2 separate regions of the Homo sapiens genome follow, and region 2 is linked to region 1. A link means that fine-mapping ties the variant in region 1 to the expression of a gene that starts in the linked region. Tissue or cell type: whole blood. Region 1 holds a variant in brackets; the other region holds the start of a gene. All regions are shown on one strand. Distances are between the middles of the regions.

The links. PIP is the estimated chance that this variant, and not a neighbour inherited with it, causes the effect.
Region 2: ABCC3 starts here. The variant in region 1 is fine-mapped to the expression of ABCC3 in whole blood (INTERVAL, PIP above 0.99).

Annotation. Positions count from the first base shown.
Region 1 is chr17:50,671,504-50,679,761 of GRCh38, forward strand. It overlaps ABCC3 (ATP binding cassette subfamily C member 3), which reads left to right. Exons shown (of 31, transcript NM_003786.4): 18 at 1,468-1,635; 19 at 1,966-2,155; 20 at 3,859-3,973; 21 at 4,128-4,272; 22 at 4,380-4,587; 23 at 4,775-5,085; 24 at 6,241-6,440; 25 at 6,590-6,716. Among named protein-coding and RNA genes, the nearest start is that of ANKRD40, 32 kb to the right of the region's middle. RefSeq lists a silencer at 5,825-6,119. The variant C/T (reference allele first, on the strand shown) is at 3,736.
Region 2 is chr17:50,631,390-50,639,389 of GRCh38, forward strand. ABCC3 (ATP binding cassette subfamily C member 3) reads left to right here and starts at 3,492. Exons shown (of 31, transcript NM_003786.4): 1 at 3,492-3,592. The coding sequence starts at 3,548. It overlaps LOC101927253 (a long non-coding RNA gene), which reads right to left and starts at 551. Exons shown (of 2, transcript XR_243718.2): 1 at 351-551. RefSeq lists a silencer at 3,462-3,511 and an enhancer at 7,242-8,000.

The sequences.
Region 1 (8,258 bases):
AATGCCTGAAACTAGGTAATTTATAAAGAAAAGAAATGTATTTTGTACAGTTACGGAGGCTGAAGAGTCCACGGTCCAGGGGCTGCATCTGGAGAGGGCCTCCTTGTTGGCGGGGAGTCTGCAGAGTCCCAAGGCCATACAGGGCATCCCATGGCAAGGGGACCGAGCATGCTAGCTCAGGTCTCTCTTCCTTCCTTCCTTTTTTTTTTTTTTTTTTTTTTTTTTTTTTGAGACAAGGCTTCACTCTGTTGCCCAGACTGTAGATTGGAGTACAGCGGCGTGATCTTGGCTCACTGCAACCTCCGCCTCCCAGGTTCAAACGATTCTCCTTCCTCAGCCTCCCGAATAGCTGGGATTACAGGCGCACGCAACTACAGCCCGACTAATTTTTGTATTTTTAGTAGAGATGGGTTTCACCATATTGGCCATGCTGGTCTTGAACTCCTGACTTCAAATGATCCACCCACCTCGACCTCCCAAATTGCTGGGATTACAGGCATGAGCCACCACGCGCGACCTCAGGTTTCTCTTTCTTTCTTATAAAGCCACCGGTCCCACTCCCCCAGTAACCCATTCACGCATCAACCTATTAATCCATAAATGGATCAACCATTCATGAGGGCTCTGTTTTCATGACCTAATCACCTGGTAAATGCCACCCCTCAATCCTGCCACACTGGGGGGTAAGTTTCAACATGCACTTTGGAAGGAACAAATATTTCAACCATATCACCTAGGTACCTCACGTAAGTGGAATCATCCAGCATTTGTCTTTTCGTGACGGGCTTATTTCACTTAGCATAATGTCCTCAAGGCATATCCATGTTGTAGCATGTGTCAGAATTTCCCTCCTTGTAAGGCTGAATGATATTTCATTATAGGTATATACACATTTGTGTGCCCATTTATCCGTAGATGGGTTGGGCAGGACACCAAGCTGGGCAGGGTGGTGACCAATGGAGCAGAATGGCCTCACCTGCCCCAGGAGGACTTACCCTTTACCTCTGTCCCTCACAGCATTGCAGGGACAGACTAGGCCCCATGTGAAATATAGATTCAGAAGACTGCTGTTCTGGTCAGGCACAGTGGCTCACACCTGTAATCCCAGCACTTTACTTTGGGAGGCTGACGTGGGCCAATTGCTTGAGCTCAGGAGTTGGAGACCAGGCTGGGCAACATATGGAGATTCTGTCTCTATAAAAAATAAAACATTTTAGTCAGTAGCCAGGCATGGTGGTCCTGCAATCAATCCTAGCTACTCGGGAGGCTGAGGCATGAGAATTGCTCAAACGCGAGAGGCAGAGGTTGCAGTGAGCCAAGATCGCACCACTGCACTCCAGCCTGGGTGAGTGAGACCCCATCTCAGGAAAAAAAAAAAAAAATCTGCCATCCCAAATAACAGTGGACAGGCCGTTGTCTCCCTGTGCCTGTCTGACCCCATTTTTCCCACCCCCCGCCTCCCTCCAGGGCATTAACCTGTCTGGGGGCCAGCGGCAGCGGGTCAGTCTGGCTCGAGCTGTTTACAGTGATGCCGATATTTTCTTGCTGGATGACCCACTGTCCGCGGTGGACTCTCATGTGGCCAAGCACATCTTTGACCACGTCATCGGGCCAGAAGGCGTGCTGGCAGGCAAGGTGAGGCCTGCCAGAGGCTAAGGGGGCTAAGGTGAGATCTGAGGCCCGAAGAGAGAGCTGGTGAGAGGCTGAGGGGTTTGGATGAGACTTGGAGGTGTGGGGGGCGCAAGAAGTGGGCATGTGGGTTGGGCATCAGGAGAAACCTGTGGGGACAACTCCCCCACCTGCGAGGTTCTGAGCAGGCTGTGGCGAGCACAGGGTGAGTCACCCATGTGCCTGTCCAAGCTCCCTGGCACATGGGCACACTTCACACTCACTCTGTGGCTCCGTGCCTGTGCCAGGGGTGTGCTGGAGGGTGGTAGGGGTGAGAGCCTGCTGCCTTCTCCCCAGACGCGAGTGCTGGTGACGCACGGCATTAGCTTCCTGCCCCAGACAGACTTCATCATTGTGCTAGCTGATGGACAGGTGTCTGAGATGGGCCCGTACCCAGCCCTGCTGCAGCGCAACGGCTCCTTTGCCAACTTTCTCTGCAACTATGCCCCCGATGAGGACCAAGGGCACCTGGAGGACAGCTGGACCGGTATCTGCCATCCTGGGCCCTCTGATTCCCATGCCTTCCCAGCATTCCCCCTGTCTGGGGTCTCTGAGTGTGTCTAGACTGGCCTAGTGTTGTGCCAGGCAGGTTCTGGGAAACTTGGGCCATCTGTGTGACAGTCACCAGAGGTAAAGTAAACTGGACATAGTCGGGTCCCACTGCCTCCTCCATCCTACTCTACCCTAACTGTGGGAACTCAGATCCTCCGCCCCGGTCTCAGAGCCTGTTTTCTTTCTTTCTTTCTTTCTTTCTTTCTTTCTTTCTTTCTTTCTTTCTTTCTTTCTTTCTTTCTTTCTTTCTTTCTTTCTCTCTCTCTCTCTCTCTCTCTCTCTCTCTCTCTCTCTCTCTCTCTCTCTCTCTCTCTTTCTTTCTTTCTTTCTTTCTTTCTTTCTTTCTTTCTTTTTTTTCTTTTGAGGCAGAGTCTGGCTCTGTCGCCGGGCTGGAGTGCAGTGGTACAATCTCAGCTCACTGCAACCTCTGCCTCCCAGGTTCAAGTGATTCTCCTGCCTCAGGCTCCCGAGTAGCTGGGACTACAGGCATGCGCCACCACGCCTGGCTAATTTTTGTATTTTTAGTACAGACATGGTTTCACCATGTTGGCCAGGATGGTCTCGATCTCTTGACCTCGTGATCTGCCTGCCTCGGCCTCCCAAAGTGCTGGGATTACAGGTGTGAGCCACCTTGCCCGATCTCAGAGCCTGTTTTCCATCTGTTGAAAGCATAGGAGGGCCCAGGCCCAGCTTGTGTGGCAAGGCTGCTTCATGGATAAATAGTTTGGCAAGTATGCAAGTGCTTAGCAAAGCCGCTTATTTATCAACCAAAATTTATTGGACAATCACTATATACAGGCACTGTTCCAGACACTAAGCTATAGCAGTGAGCAAACAAAAAAATTATAGTCCTCATGGAGCTTGTTGACGTCTCTGGGCTCACAACATGCCCCTGGCTCCTTGTTGCCCAGACCCAGCTCCCCAGCCCCCAATTCTGGATTGGCTCACAGACCTTTTCCTGGGCTTTCTTGCCTATGGCTATACATACAGCCAACGTGCCTTGAGCATTTACCAAGTGCTGTGCCCCTCGCTCACACACTGGACACATTTTCTTTTAAGCCTACAGTCATGCAGATTTTTTTTTTTTTTTTTTGGGGACAGTTTCTCACTCTGTTGCCCAGGCTGGAGTGCAACGGTGCGATCTTGGCTCACTGCAACCTTTGCCTCCTGGGTTCAAGCGATTCTCCTGCCTCAGCCTCCCGAGTAGCCAGGATTATAGGTGCCCGCCACCACGCCCGGCTAATTTTTGTATTTTTAGTAGAGACGGGGTTTCACCATGTTGGCCAGGCTGGTCTCGATCTCCTGACCTCGTGAGCTGCCTGCCTCAGCCTCCCAAAGTGCTGGGATTACAGGCGTGAGCCACCATGCCCGACCAAGGACGTGAGTTTTAAGCTCAGCCAGTCTAACTCCAGAGCCCAAGTTCCTAACCCTTGTATTTGAGTCCGTTTCTCCATAATTTGTGAAGAGAGTTTTTCTTGTTGCTTAACCCAAGTCTTTCTTGTTGCCCTTTCAATC[C/T]CCCTCATTTTATTTTCATGCTTGTCCATTGAACCCCTTTCATTAGAGTGGGGAATGGGAGATACCAGGGGCTTGCAGGGAGAACTAGCTGAACCCTATCTCCTTCCTCCCACCCTACTGCAGCGTTGGAAGGTGCAGAGGATAAGGAGGCACTGCTGATTGAAGACACACTCAGCAACCACACGGATCTGACAGACAATGATCCAGTCACCTATGTGGTCCAGAAGCAGTTTATGAGGTGAGTTCCTGAGAGCTCCCAGCCCTCCCGGAGGCTGTATCAGGCCTCCCCAGGCCCTGCCAGATGGGGTGCAGGTTTCTCCCTGACACTCCCAGCCTCTGTCCTGGGGGGTGCTTGAGGCCCCCTCCCTGGGCCTGACCAGCTGCCTCCACAGACAGCTGAGTGCCCTGTCCTCAGATGGGGAGGGACAGGGTCGGCCTGTACCCCGGAGGCACCTGGGTCCATCAGAGAAGGTGCAGGTGACAGAGGCGAAGGCAGATGGGGCACTGACCCAGGAGGAGAAAGCAGCCATTGGCACTGTGAGTCGGTGGGGCAAGAGGGGCTGGAGGGGATGGACAGGCAGGCCCCAGCAGCCCCAGGGTTTATGGAGTCCCCTGTCCCTGACTGCCATGGCTGCTCCCTACAGGTGGAGCTCAGTGTGTTCTGGGATTATGCCAAGGCCGTGGGGCTCTGTACCACGCTGGCCATCTGTCTCCTGTATGTGGGTCAAAGTGCGGCTGCCATTGGAGCCAATGTGTGGCTCAGTGCCTGGACAAATGATGCCATGGCAGACAGTAGACAGAACAACACTTCCCTGAGGCTGGGCGTCTATGCTGCTTTAGGAATTCTGCAAGGTGAGCTTGTGGGGGTGTCCAGAAGGGGCTCCAATATCCCTTCTTCTCTGGGCTGCCAGGCCCCCCAAACCGTGCCCTTGCATCCAAGCCTCCCTAACCCACTCTGGTCAACCCGTGTCTCTGATTCTGCCCCTTTGTGCCCGCTCACTAGTCCAGGTGAGCCAGCGCCCTCTGCCTTCTCCAACAGGGTTCTTGGTGATGCTGGCAGCCATGGCCATGGCAGCGGGTGGCATCCAGGCTGCCCGTGTGTTGCACCAGGCACTGCTGCACAACAAGATACGCTCGCCACAGTCCTTCTTTGACACCACACCATCAGGCCGCATCCTGAACTGCTTCTCCAAGGACATCTATGTCGTTGATGAGGTTCTGGCCCCTGTCATCCTCATGCTGCTCAATTCCTTCTTCAACGCCATCTCCACTCTTGTGGTCATCATGGCCAGCACGCCGCTCTTCACTGTGGTCATCCTGCCCCTGGCTGTGCTCTACACCTTAGTGCAGGTGTGGGGTGGGCGTGATTCCAGTGTGGGCGTGGTGTTATTGGGGCGGGGCAACACATGGGCGGGGGCAGCAGGGGTGGGACACTTCAGGCCACCAACATTACAGAGTTTTGTTAGGGGCAGTCGTTGCTTAACATTTATGTTAGGGGAGCCATTACTTAACCTCTTTGAAACTCATTTGCCTCACCTGTAAAATAGAATGACTCATAGACCTTCCTCATGGAGTTGGTGAGAGAATAAAATGAAATAGTTATACATTGTAGCTGGCACTGGGACTTTCCTGTTGGCTTTTTTTTTTTGGGGGGGGGGGGACGGAATCTCGAGTCTCGCTCTGTCGCTCAGGCTGGAGTGCAGCTGCACGATCTCAGCTCACTGTAACCTCCGCCTCCCAGGTTCAAGCAATTCTGTTTCAGCCTCCCAGGTAGCTGGGATTACAGGCATGCGCCACCACGCCCAGCTAATTTTTGTAGTTTTAGTAGAGATGGGGTTTCACTATGTTGGCCAGGCTGCTCTTGAACTCCTGACCTCAAGTGATCCGCCCACCTCGGCCTCCCAAAGTGCTGGGATTACAGGTGGGAACCACCATACCCGGCCTTCCTGTTGGCTGTTTTTTGATAAAACATTGTCAACAGTTTGGGACACATTATCCTTTCCTTCCTTTTATACATATCTAAACATACGTGTATGCATGCGTTTAACATAGATGAGTTGATAACCTTCAGATACAGCTAACTGTAAAAGGCCTTTGCAGACACTGAACTCCTGTTCTGTAATGAATTAGTCAGTTCCCGGGGATAGATGCTCAACACCTGGGTATAGCGACCATGATCTAGGCTGTGCTCTGTGCTGGGCTAGGGGAGAATCAGATAGACATCCTGTATAGCCTGGATATCTGAGGCCACAGAGGAGAGGATGGAAACTGGAGGCAGAGCCGTGTTGTTGTGGGGTTGAAGCAGAGATGATCAGAGGGAGGGAGTGAATGACACATCAAGGCCCCAAGTCTTGGGTCCTTGGAGGTGGGGGAAGGCAGCGATGTCTCGTGGTGGGAGTGAGGCTGGCTGGGAGGACTCATCTGAAAATGGATGAGTTCAGAGACAGGCAGGACTGAGTTGGGGGTTCCATGGCCCTGACCCCAAACTCCTTCTCCCTCCATCAGCGCTTCTATGCAGCCACATCACGGCAACTGAAGCGGCTGGAATCAGTCAGCCGCTCACCTATCTACTCCCACTTTTCGGAGACAGTGACTGGTGCCAGTGTCATCCGGGCCTACAACCGCAGCCGGGATTTTGAGATCATCAGTGATACTAAGGTGGATGCCAACCAGAGAAGCTGCTACCCCTACATCATCTCCAACCGGTCAGAAGCCGCCTCCCTCGCTCCCTGCTCCTCCAGGAATTCCCAGCAGGCTCTCTGGTGTTCAGGGTCCTTGTCCCTCCTTTCCCCTAAGCAGAAAACTGGCCCTGCCCTGCCCCTGCCCCATTTCCTCCTCATCTGATCCCCCATAGGTGGCTGAGCATCGGAGTGGAGTTCGTGGGGAACTGCGTGGTGCTCTTTGCTGCACTATTTGCCGTCATCGGGAGGAGCAGCCTGAACCCGGGGCTGGTGGGCCTTTCTGTGTCCTACTCCTTGCAGGTATGAAGGGCCTGGACCCCAGGGCAGGGCCACCACTGGGACAGAAACCACACAGGTGTTCCAGGCATCTCCCGAGTGCCCCTCCCTGCTCAGTATGGGCACCAGCCACAGGGTCTGTTCTCAAGGACTGTGAGAAAAAAAAAAAAAGAAAAAAATCATTGAGTTGACAAGTTTATAACCACACACCATGGCTGGATGTTCCTACTTTCCTTCCCCAAGAAGCCCATGTTCTCACATTCAGAAAGAATTCTGTTGAATAATCTCTGTCCTCAAACCCCACATCTCTCTCCTGCTCAGCCGTCGACCTTGCCTGACACCTCACAGTTCAACTGGAGAGACCCCCATCAGCAGGAGATTGTGCTGCAGGCTGAGCAGGTCTTTGTGGCTGGAGAAACAAAATGTTTTAAAAGCCCAGAAGAGGGACTGGGTGCAGTGGCTCACACCTAATCCCAGCACTTTGGGAGGCGGAGGTGGGCGGATCACCTGAGGCCAGGAGCTCCAGAACAGCCTGGCCAACATGGTGAAACCCTATCTCTACTTAAATACAAAAATTAGCCAGCCGTGGTGGCGGGCATCTGTAATCCCAGCTACTCAGGAGGCTGAGGCAGGAGAATAGCTTGAACCTGGGAGGCAGAGGTTGCAGTGAGCCAAGATCACGCCACTGCACTCCAGCCTGGGTGACAGAGCGAGACTCCATCTCAAGAGAGAAAAAAAAAAAGTCCAGAGGAGTTTTCTTGCTTTGGGGTGTTGTAGAAATGATCTTGGAGCTTAGCCCCAAAGGACAAACAGAATTTCTCTTGTCTCTGGGCAAGTTGTAGGCTCATGTGACAGGTCAGGACAGTGTAGGGCTGGCATACCGCTCGCTCACGTTCACATGCTTGCAGAGAACGTACACAGACGAGGTGACTGAAGCCTGGTCTGCAGGTCAGGCAGGTCATCCTGATGCCAGCTTGTACTGTCAAAGAGTCACCTAACTGCAAACGGAATTTTTGTAAAGCAGATCACATTGTTAATACCTCAGGTGGCTCAAACCTTGAACGCGTTGGCAAACAAAAAACAATCCAGAAAGGTCAATTTTCACAAAGGTCAGTGTGCACATGAATCTACTTGTTAAAATGTACATTTTGATTCAGTAGACCTAGGATGGGGCTCAGGACTCTGCACTTTGATCAAGACTCCTTGGTACGCAAAGTGTGGCCCATGGGCCAGTTGCATCACCATCCTCTGGGAGCTTGTTAGAAATGAAGAATCTCAGGTTCCAAGTCCCACCTCAGACTACAGAATCCGGCGTTGCATTTTAACAAGATTCTCTGGGAAGTCTTATACATATTAAAGTTGGAGAAACAGAAACCAAGGCGAGGTGGTCCTTGGTTAAGTCTGCACTGTCACTGCCCAAGGGAGTCATTCGTGATTACAGCCCCAGCTGGCATGCCTGTGGGCTTGATCCAGGCCCACCTGGGTCATCCATGGGCTAGGATCCCATGGATGGGCACATGATCCAGGAGTCTGAACTCCTCCCAAAGCCATTACGGTGGGGAGGGG
Region 2 (8,000 bases), 40 kb before region 1:
AGGAAGCAGACCCCACTTCAGGGGAGAGGACAAGGGGGAGGCTGGGGCGTGGGAGCTGCAGCCTGGTTTGGGGGTGCTCCAAGCCTCCAAGGAGCCGCAAGGGGCTAAAAGGAATCAGGCAGTGCTTGGAGGGGAAGCTTTGCTATTCCACACCCTGCCCCTCTGTCTTGTCAGTTCCAACCTGCCTCTCTCCCTTCGGAGCATTTCCTGTGCCTGGGTCTCCCCATTGCCCCCATTCTGCTTTCTTCTCTCTGCTGTCATGCTTGCTCTGAGCTGTACCTTGCAATTATTTTATCTTTCCATCTCCTTGCCAGGAAATCCTTGACGCCGGGTTCCCCTGGGACACTCACTGCGGGGGAGGCACCGCACATGCTCCATCCATCCTGCCTGGAGCAGCAGTCAGTTGGGGAGGGAGGATGGGGCTTGGGCCATGAAGGCTGGGGGAGGTTTGGTCCATTTCTCTGCTGCAGCCCAACCCACAAGGCCGTTACTGCTTCTCCGGAGCCCTTCCAGCAAGAACCATCTTGGTTCTGAACACTCAAAAGCAAAGTGGGCAGTGCCCACTGCTGGGACTGTACTTAATGCCACAGTGGCCTTGTTACCTATGACTCCTTCTTAGGAAATGAGGTGTTTGCTTAATCAGTCAACAACACTTCCTGAGGACCAACTTCTCCAGGCACTGTCCTGGGTGCTGAGGATACAGTGATAAACAAACTTCAGTCCCTACCCTCAAGGTGTCCACAGTCCTCTGGGGGAGGTAAGCAAGACATCAGTGATTACAAGTGGGGGAAGCCTCCTAGCCCAGGACTGGGTTGGGGAGGTCCAAGGAAGGCTTTGACGGGGAGGGGGGCTTGAGCGAACTCTTGAAGAAGTTTGCCACTTGCAGAAAGGGAGGTAGGGTGTAGGTAGGAGAGTGCACCAAGCAGCCTTGAAGACAGATACAGGAAGTGCATCCCGCTCAAGGAGACTGCGCAGAAACAGTCTCCTCGGCAGACGTGGGGCGCCTCCTGCGTGTGCTGGGATAAGCTCTGTGGCGCTGAGCAAGCTGTAGGGTGTCTCAGGGCCTCAGATTTCTTGCTCTGGTGAGAACAACCAAAACAATAACATCCTAGAAATATTGTGGTTATTATTCAAGGGCTCTGTGAAAGGGGACACACTTCCTGAGTGGCCTGGAGGGGTAAAGCCCCAATACCTCAAGAGAGATGGGGGAAGGTGAGGATCGCTAAGGGCCCCCACCACGCCCTCAGAGTGCCCAACCCAGTGCTATAGCCTTGGGAAAGCAATAGCGATAGAAAAGCCTGGGGCTGCAAGGGATGGTGCTTCAGCTCCGATGCTGAAGCCAGAACCCAAGGGTCCTAGCCCAAAACTAGAGCTCCAGCCAGTGCACTGCCTGGCCAACTGTGGGGCTGGAAAGTCCCGGACGGAAGCTCAGGCTAGTTCTGGGCTCTCCATCTCAGAAAGGAGGTCTGATTGGGGAGCTCACCTCCCAAAGGGCCCTAAAGGAAAGTCCCCAGGTCTCCTCAAGCCCAGAGCAATCTGGTGCCTATGACCCCACAAGCCCTAGAAAAGGAATGGGAGAGGAGGGAGAGTTGGAGGAAGCCGGTGGGTAGACAAGGTCAAAACACAGGGGCAGTGGGTGCTGATGAAGCCATGACCAGGGTCATGGAAGGGGTGGAGGAAGGTTCCCAGCTGCCTAGGCCATAGAAGCCTGGCCCACCAGGGCTGGAAGAGAGCTTAGATATCACCCTGTCCACGTTTCTCAAGAAATGAAGTCCCAGAGGCATCAAGGAGCTTATTGAGATCACACAGTGTATAAAAGGTATGGAGGGGGATTGGAGGGGACTGAGTTAGTCCCTGCCCTTGGGGACCTCTCAGATTAGCAGGGAAGACAGACTCTTCATAACTAAATATAATCCAAGGCACGCCGTAACAAGGTGTAAAGCTCTGTAAAGTATTTTGCCCAGAGATGAAGGTAGGGGGACAGGAGAGGGAGGGTATGTGTGGATGAGTGGAAAGGAAGAGGGCAGACAAAGAAGGGGCTGAAAGAACTTGCCCAGTGGAGGGGTAGAAGTCCCTGGTCTGACTGCCTGGGAAAGGGGAATCTTCTCCACTCCCACCCCTATCCCATGCCCAGCCAGATCTTGGTTCTGATAGCCTATAGCCAAGGAGACTTCCCTTCTAGTGACCTCCTGGCTGCCCAGAGAGATAGGAGGTGGCTTGCCCCTTCTGCACTCTTACTGGCTCCCACCCACACCTGCCGCTGAGCAGCCAAGGAAGGAAACACCTTCTCTTGAGAACAAGGGCCAGAAAAGGGGTCACCGGGGTGAAACTGGACAGACCTGTGGGCAAAGGCAGGGAAGAGAAGGGCCAGGGAAAGATTTGCCAGGGAGAATTCCTTCTGAGCCCCAACAAGCGGTGCTGAGTTGGCGTCTGGGATTGTGTTAAGGAAGACAGGGCAACAGCGGGATTGAGAGATGGAGGGATCCCCGCATCTGAGGGGATACCGGGAGAAGGAGAGCTGAGGCAAGCAGGAGAAGGAGAGCACTGACAAGCCCATTTTACAGATCAGGAATGTAGAGTTTCAGCCTTAGGAGGAGGACGAGGACGAGGACACTCACGTGGGGCTCCTCCTGGGGCTTCACCTGTCCTTCCCCCCCCAACCCTGATCAGGCTGAAGCAGAGGGAATTCACACATGTTGGGTGCCCACTAAGTGTGCCAGGAAATACGCTTTGCCTACCCTTTCCATTCAATCCTCAGAGAACCCTGGGAGGAAGATTCTCTTCTATGATTGTCTCTATTTTACGGATGTGAAAGTAGAGGCCCAGAGACGTGCCGAGGTGATGTGGCAAGGTCAGGGAGCCACAGAGCCTAAGAGGGCAGCAGTTTAAGAGGACATAAGAGGCCCCCGCTGGACGATGCTGCGGCCCCCACCCCCGCCTCACGGGTACACACCCGCGGAGCACACCCCGTGTGCTCCCCGTGTGGCGCCTGCCAGTGGTCTCTGGAACCTGATGGGGAAGAGGTCAGCTTCCTGATTGAGCACAGAAGCCCTTCCCATTTTACAGATGAGGAAACTGACCTCCGGAGAGGAACGTGACCTTCTCAAAGATTCCTTTTTTACTAGGAAAGATTGTTAAATCCCTCTCCCTACGTCCCCTACTCAATGACTCATCGGCCCCACGGACTTGTTCGGGAGTGGGAGCGCCTGTGTATCCCAGTTCCCCCTTGGAAATAGACTCGACTCCTGGACTGTTAGCCTCGGTATTTAGAGAGACATCCCCCTGGCTTGGCCCAGGGGCCGCTCGCAGGGGCTGTCGCCGTGCCAAGGGCCCCCCCACCTCTGCCCCAAAGTCCCTCCCAGGGAGGCGCTGTCGCAACCCGCGGGACGGGGGCAGGGAGACCGGACCCAGAGGCACTGGGGTAGGGCTCGGCAGGGCGGGTCCGGGCGGAGCGCGGGGTGCGGAGGGCGGAGGCGGCTCCGGCGCCCGCTCTGCCCGCCGCTGGGTCCGACCGCGCTCGCCTTCCTTGCAGCCGCGCCTCGGCCCCATGGACGCCCTGTGCGGTTCCGGGGAGCTCGGCTCCAAGTTCTGGGTAAGGCGCGGGGCTCCGGGGTCACTGCGCGGGGGCCAGGGTCGGCCGGCTTCGCCCGGTCCCCGCCGCCTGCCTTCCCGCGGGGCCGGCAGGTATCCCGGGACGGAGCCCCTGAGACGGCCTGGGCGCCCGGGAGGGGGCGATGGGCTCGGGAGGGAGGTTGGCTGCGCCGCCCGGAGCCGGGTCCCACGCGGTGTCGGGGACCTGCCCTGCTCTGCCCTTCCCGGCTGCAGCACTGGGGAGCCCGGGAAAGTGAGGAAGAGTGCGCGGCTGGGGCGCAAAGGCACAGTGCGTGGCTGGGTGAGTCGGCTCCATCCCAGCCCCTCCGTCGGGTGCGGAAGGGGCGTTTCGCAATCAGCCGCGGGTTCCTGATGGAGGGTCTTCCCTCAGCATCTGCCTCAGGTTAGGACTCGGTTGCCCACCTGGGCATGGATTGCCCCCAGGGCATCCAGAGCACCTGCTCAACCAGGTGTTTTGGGAGGCCGGCTGTGCAGTGTCCCACCCTTCTTAGGAAGGTTTCCTGCCACCTTCTTTTCTCTAGGTAAGACTGAGGTCTGAGAGCAGGCCATCCCCACCACTCCGGACTCAGAAGGGAGAAGCAGACCCCAGTCTGGAGACAGGTGCAGGGTGTCAGGATTCCTGTAGTCCAACTCCCTTCTCACAGATGGAGAAAGGGAGGCCCAGAGAGAGGAAGGGACTTGCCCAAAGTTACCCAGTTCAATGAAGGCAGAGCTGGGATAGAAAAACAGGCTACAGGCCAGGTGCAGTGGTTCACGCCTGTAATCCCACCCTTTGGGAGGCAGAGGTGGGAGGATCACTTCAGCCCAGGAGTTTTAGATTACTGTGAGCTATGATCGCACCACTGCACTGTGGCCTGGGCGAAAGAGTGAGACCCTGTCTCTAAAAAAATAAATAAATAAGAAAAGAAAATCAAGCCTTTGGTGACTCTCACTCCAAATCTCTTTCTAAGACAGGCTGCTCTTCAGCCTGCTGACTCCAGCCTCCAGCACAGTTCAGGTGAGCTAAGTGCATACAGCCTAGGAGCTTTCTTACCAACTTGCAAAACTTACTTGCCTCTATGAGGCAAGTGATCATGTGGTCTCCGTTTTACAGAGGGAGCTCAGATTAAAGGTGCTTCTCTGTGGTCATTAAAGGGGTGTCCAGGGCTTGTGAATCCCAATCTCTAAGTCTTTTCCTATTTTGAGTATTTGTACATATATGCCCTTTGTGTGTGTACGCACACACGCAGGCACGTGGGGTGTTACCCAAGAGTTCGTGCTGTGCACGTGTGTGCACAGGTGTATAAGTCTGGAGCTATGCTCTTGGGCTGTGTTTAGAATGGGCTGAAGGCGTTATATGGATTTTTTGAAACTTGGGGCAATGGAGGTAAAAAAAAAAACTGTAAAAAGGCATATTTGGGATTCTCTCTTTTTCTGTGGGTGACCCAAAGGTTAATCCGAGATGGTGCAACTTCTCTGCCACTGCCCTTCTTTCCCAGTCCCACAGGAACTTCATGTATTATTCAGCATGGACAGGCCACTTGCCACCAGGGTCCAGAGGTTGTGCCTTTGCCTCATGAGCACACTTCCTTTCACTGCCCTTTGGGCCAGGCTGGTATGACCGTGGCAGGTTTGTGGTGCCTGGGATGCCAAACAGAAAATCAAGAGGGTAGTTGTGCCCAAGCTTCAGGCACAAGGGCTCATTGTTCCTGGGTAGCCTCCTGAACCCTGAGAGCTTAGGACTCTACAGAGACAGGTCTCCTGGACCCCAGAGTTGGGAAATTCAGGACTCCCTTTTTGTCCCATGTTCAGACATCCTCTGGCTCTACCTTAACATGGGATTGTGGAATCCAAGAAAGTGGGAGCTTGGGAGTTTGAAGCAGCGAGTCCAACCCCTCAGTGTAGAGCTGGGGAAACTGAGGCCAAGGGAGTGAAGGTCACAGGACAATCAAAGACAGAGTGCTGGGCTGGGAAACCGGACCCCGGGGCTGTGGTTACAGGGTTGCCATTGCCTGGCTGTGAGCCTTTGAGCCTCTGGGCCCTCTGGCCCGCGCACTTCTCCTTGATGCTCGTGAGCTATACACACCTCCTCTGAGGATGCAGGCTCAGTGGGAGTCAGCTCATCTACATTATGAAGCCCTCGTGAGATCTCTGCTTGGATACCTTAAATGGCAAACTGACCACCCCCCTTCCCACCCCAATCTCTAAACATCTTTCACATTCTCTTCTGGCTCCTGAAAGCTGTTCCAGGCTGCACCCAGTGTGGCTGGTGACTGGGGAAGGAGCGTGGAGAGAGAAAGGAGGCTCCCAGCTCATCCTCTGAGGGAATGACAGGGTTTGTACAGCTGAAAGGAGAGAGAGTCTACACTGGAAGCTGGATCCTCTGCCACAGCCTAATTACAAAAAAGGCCTGGAGTTCTGGGCTGTTCATTTGTGATGTGCTGTGTTGCATCTCATTTGCATGGTGTATTATTAAGGCACAACTCCCCCTGAACCTTTACCTTAGGGGCCTGTGGGTGACCCACTTTGTGGGAAGTGGTTCAGGGCAGCCCGGAAGTACCTGAACTAGGAGTGAAAATGCAAGGAGGGGGTGGGGTGTTCAGGCCCCTCTGGGCCGCTCATTTAATCTACCAAGATGCTCAGTAGCTCATCCTTATAGCTTCAGTTTCTCCACCAGTGGAATGGGAAATAACCCAACCCCTACCCACCTCACAAGATTTTTCTGATCAAATGAGACAGGGAATGTGGAATGATTTTAAGAACTAAGAAGTTTTCTATGGGTGGCAAGTTCTGACATTCCCCGGAAGAGGGAGGAGAAAGAAAAATGGGGTTAGAAGAAAATGTCAGACGTGGGAAGACCTGCAGGGAAAGAGCTGGTAGGGCTGTCGGGCCAGTGGCTCCCATTTCAGCTGTTTGCTGGGGAGCTGGGAGCTGTTCCTGGCTCAGTCTGAGGGTAGGAGACTGGAGAGGACCATGCCCCTTGGGACATGTGTACACACATCTGTGTACTCACACACCACCTGCCAGGTGAATGATTTGTGTGAATCCTTCTCTCTCTCACCCATATCGACTTTGAAGCAGGTTACCAACTTCCCTGAATGTGCCTTGGGAGTTTTTGTGGAAATAAATTCCAAAAGAGTGAACTGTGTAATTAAACCACCTCACTACTCAGGAGGCCAGAGGTGCCTCAGAACAAGGGAGGAGGTGGGATCCTCTGCCTGCAGGATTCCTCTCTGTTCTGAACCACAGAGGTTGGGAGCACCTGGGTGGTGAAGGGAGTATGTGGAGGAAGGGCCTGGAGGTATTTACCCCCCGCCAGATAAACACCTGTTGGCAGAATTAGCCTTGATCTGACAGCCCCAGGAAGCTTAGAAATCTGAAGATCCTGACCATGAAAGCCATCCAAAGATGGCAAGGACCGCCTGAGAAGTAGTGAGCTCCCTGTCACTGGGGGGTATGTAAGGACATGGTTAGTGACTGCTTGGCGGAGATGCTGGAGAGAGGATTCAAGCCAGGAAAGAAGGTGGGGTCCTGAGATTCTGTGACTGGGTAGAGGGAAGATGCGGCCAGTGGGGATTCATTAGTTCCTCCTCTGAGATTTCTGGACTCCTCCTTCCCTGGCTCTCTCCCTGCTCTACATACGGAATTTGCCTAGAAGCAGCTCTTGGTAGAGGCCTCTGGGTCTCCCCTTGGTTAGGCCCACATGGGAAAGGTGACCTCATTGTTCCCTTAGCTGTTTACCCATCCTAGGGAGGGGCAGATCCCTGGTCCCTTGGAGGCTCAGCTCCCTGTGTCTCCTGCTCTGTTTTAGCTAGCCCCAATTCTGCTATTCACCAGCTGTGTGACTTTGGGCAAATGACTCACCTTCTCTGGGCTCCAGCAGGGCTGAGGTGGGCTCTGGGGCCTGCTTCAGGTCTGGAGTTGCCCAATTTTGGAAGGATGAGCCTTGGGCTTGGGGGCGAAGGCTATGCATGATTAGGGCCCTTCAAAGCTTAGAGCTCCTGGGTATCAGGGTCTCCTCTGCCTTCTTAGTAGGCAGCCACAAAAATGTATGAGTAATGGGCAAGGCTCCTATGCCAATGTATTTTGACTCACAAATGAAGACAGTGTCCTGCACATCCATGGGGAAGCTGAGTGGGAGGTAGACACTCCTCCGCTTAGCAGACACCATAGCTCACCCTCCCCTCAGGAACCCAGTCCTCCCTGCAAGGCCAGAGCTCCCGGGGCTCCTTTCCTCCATCTCAGCTGCTGCAAGCAAACCCAGTGCTGGATGGCTTTGACCTCTGAGCTCTTGGCTTCTGGCTACGGCATTTCATTGCTTGTGGCCTCAGGCTGGCTTCTCCTCAATCCTGCTGTTCCCCCACTTCACCTGGGCCTTAGGTCCCTGAGGGCCAGAGAGATACGGGGAA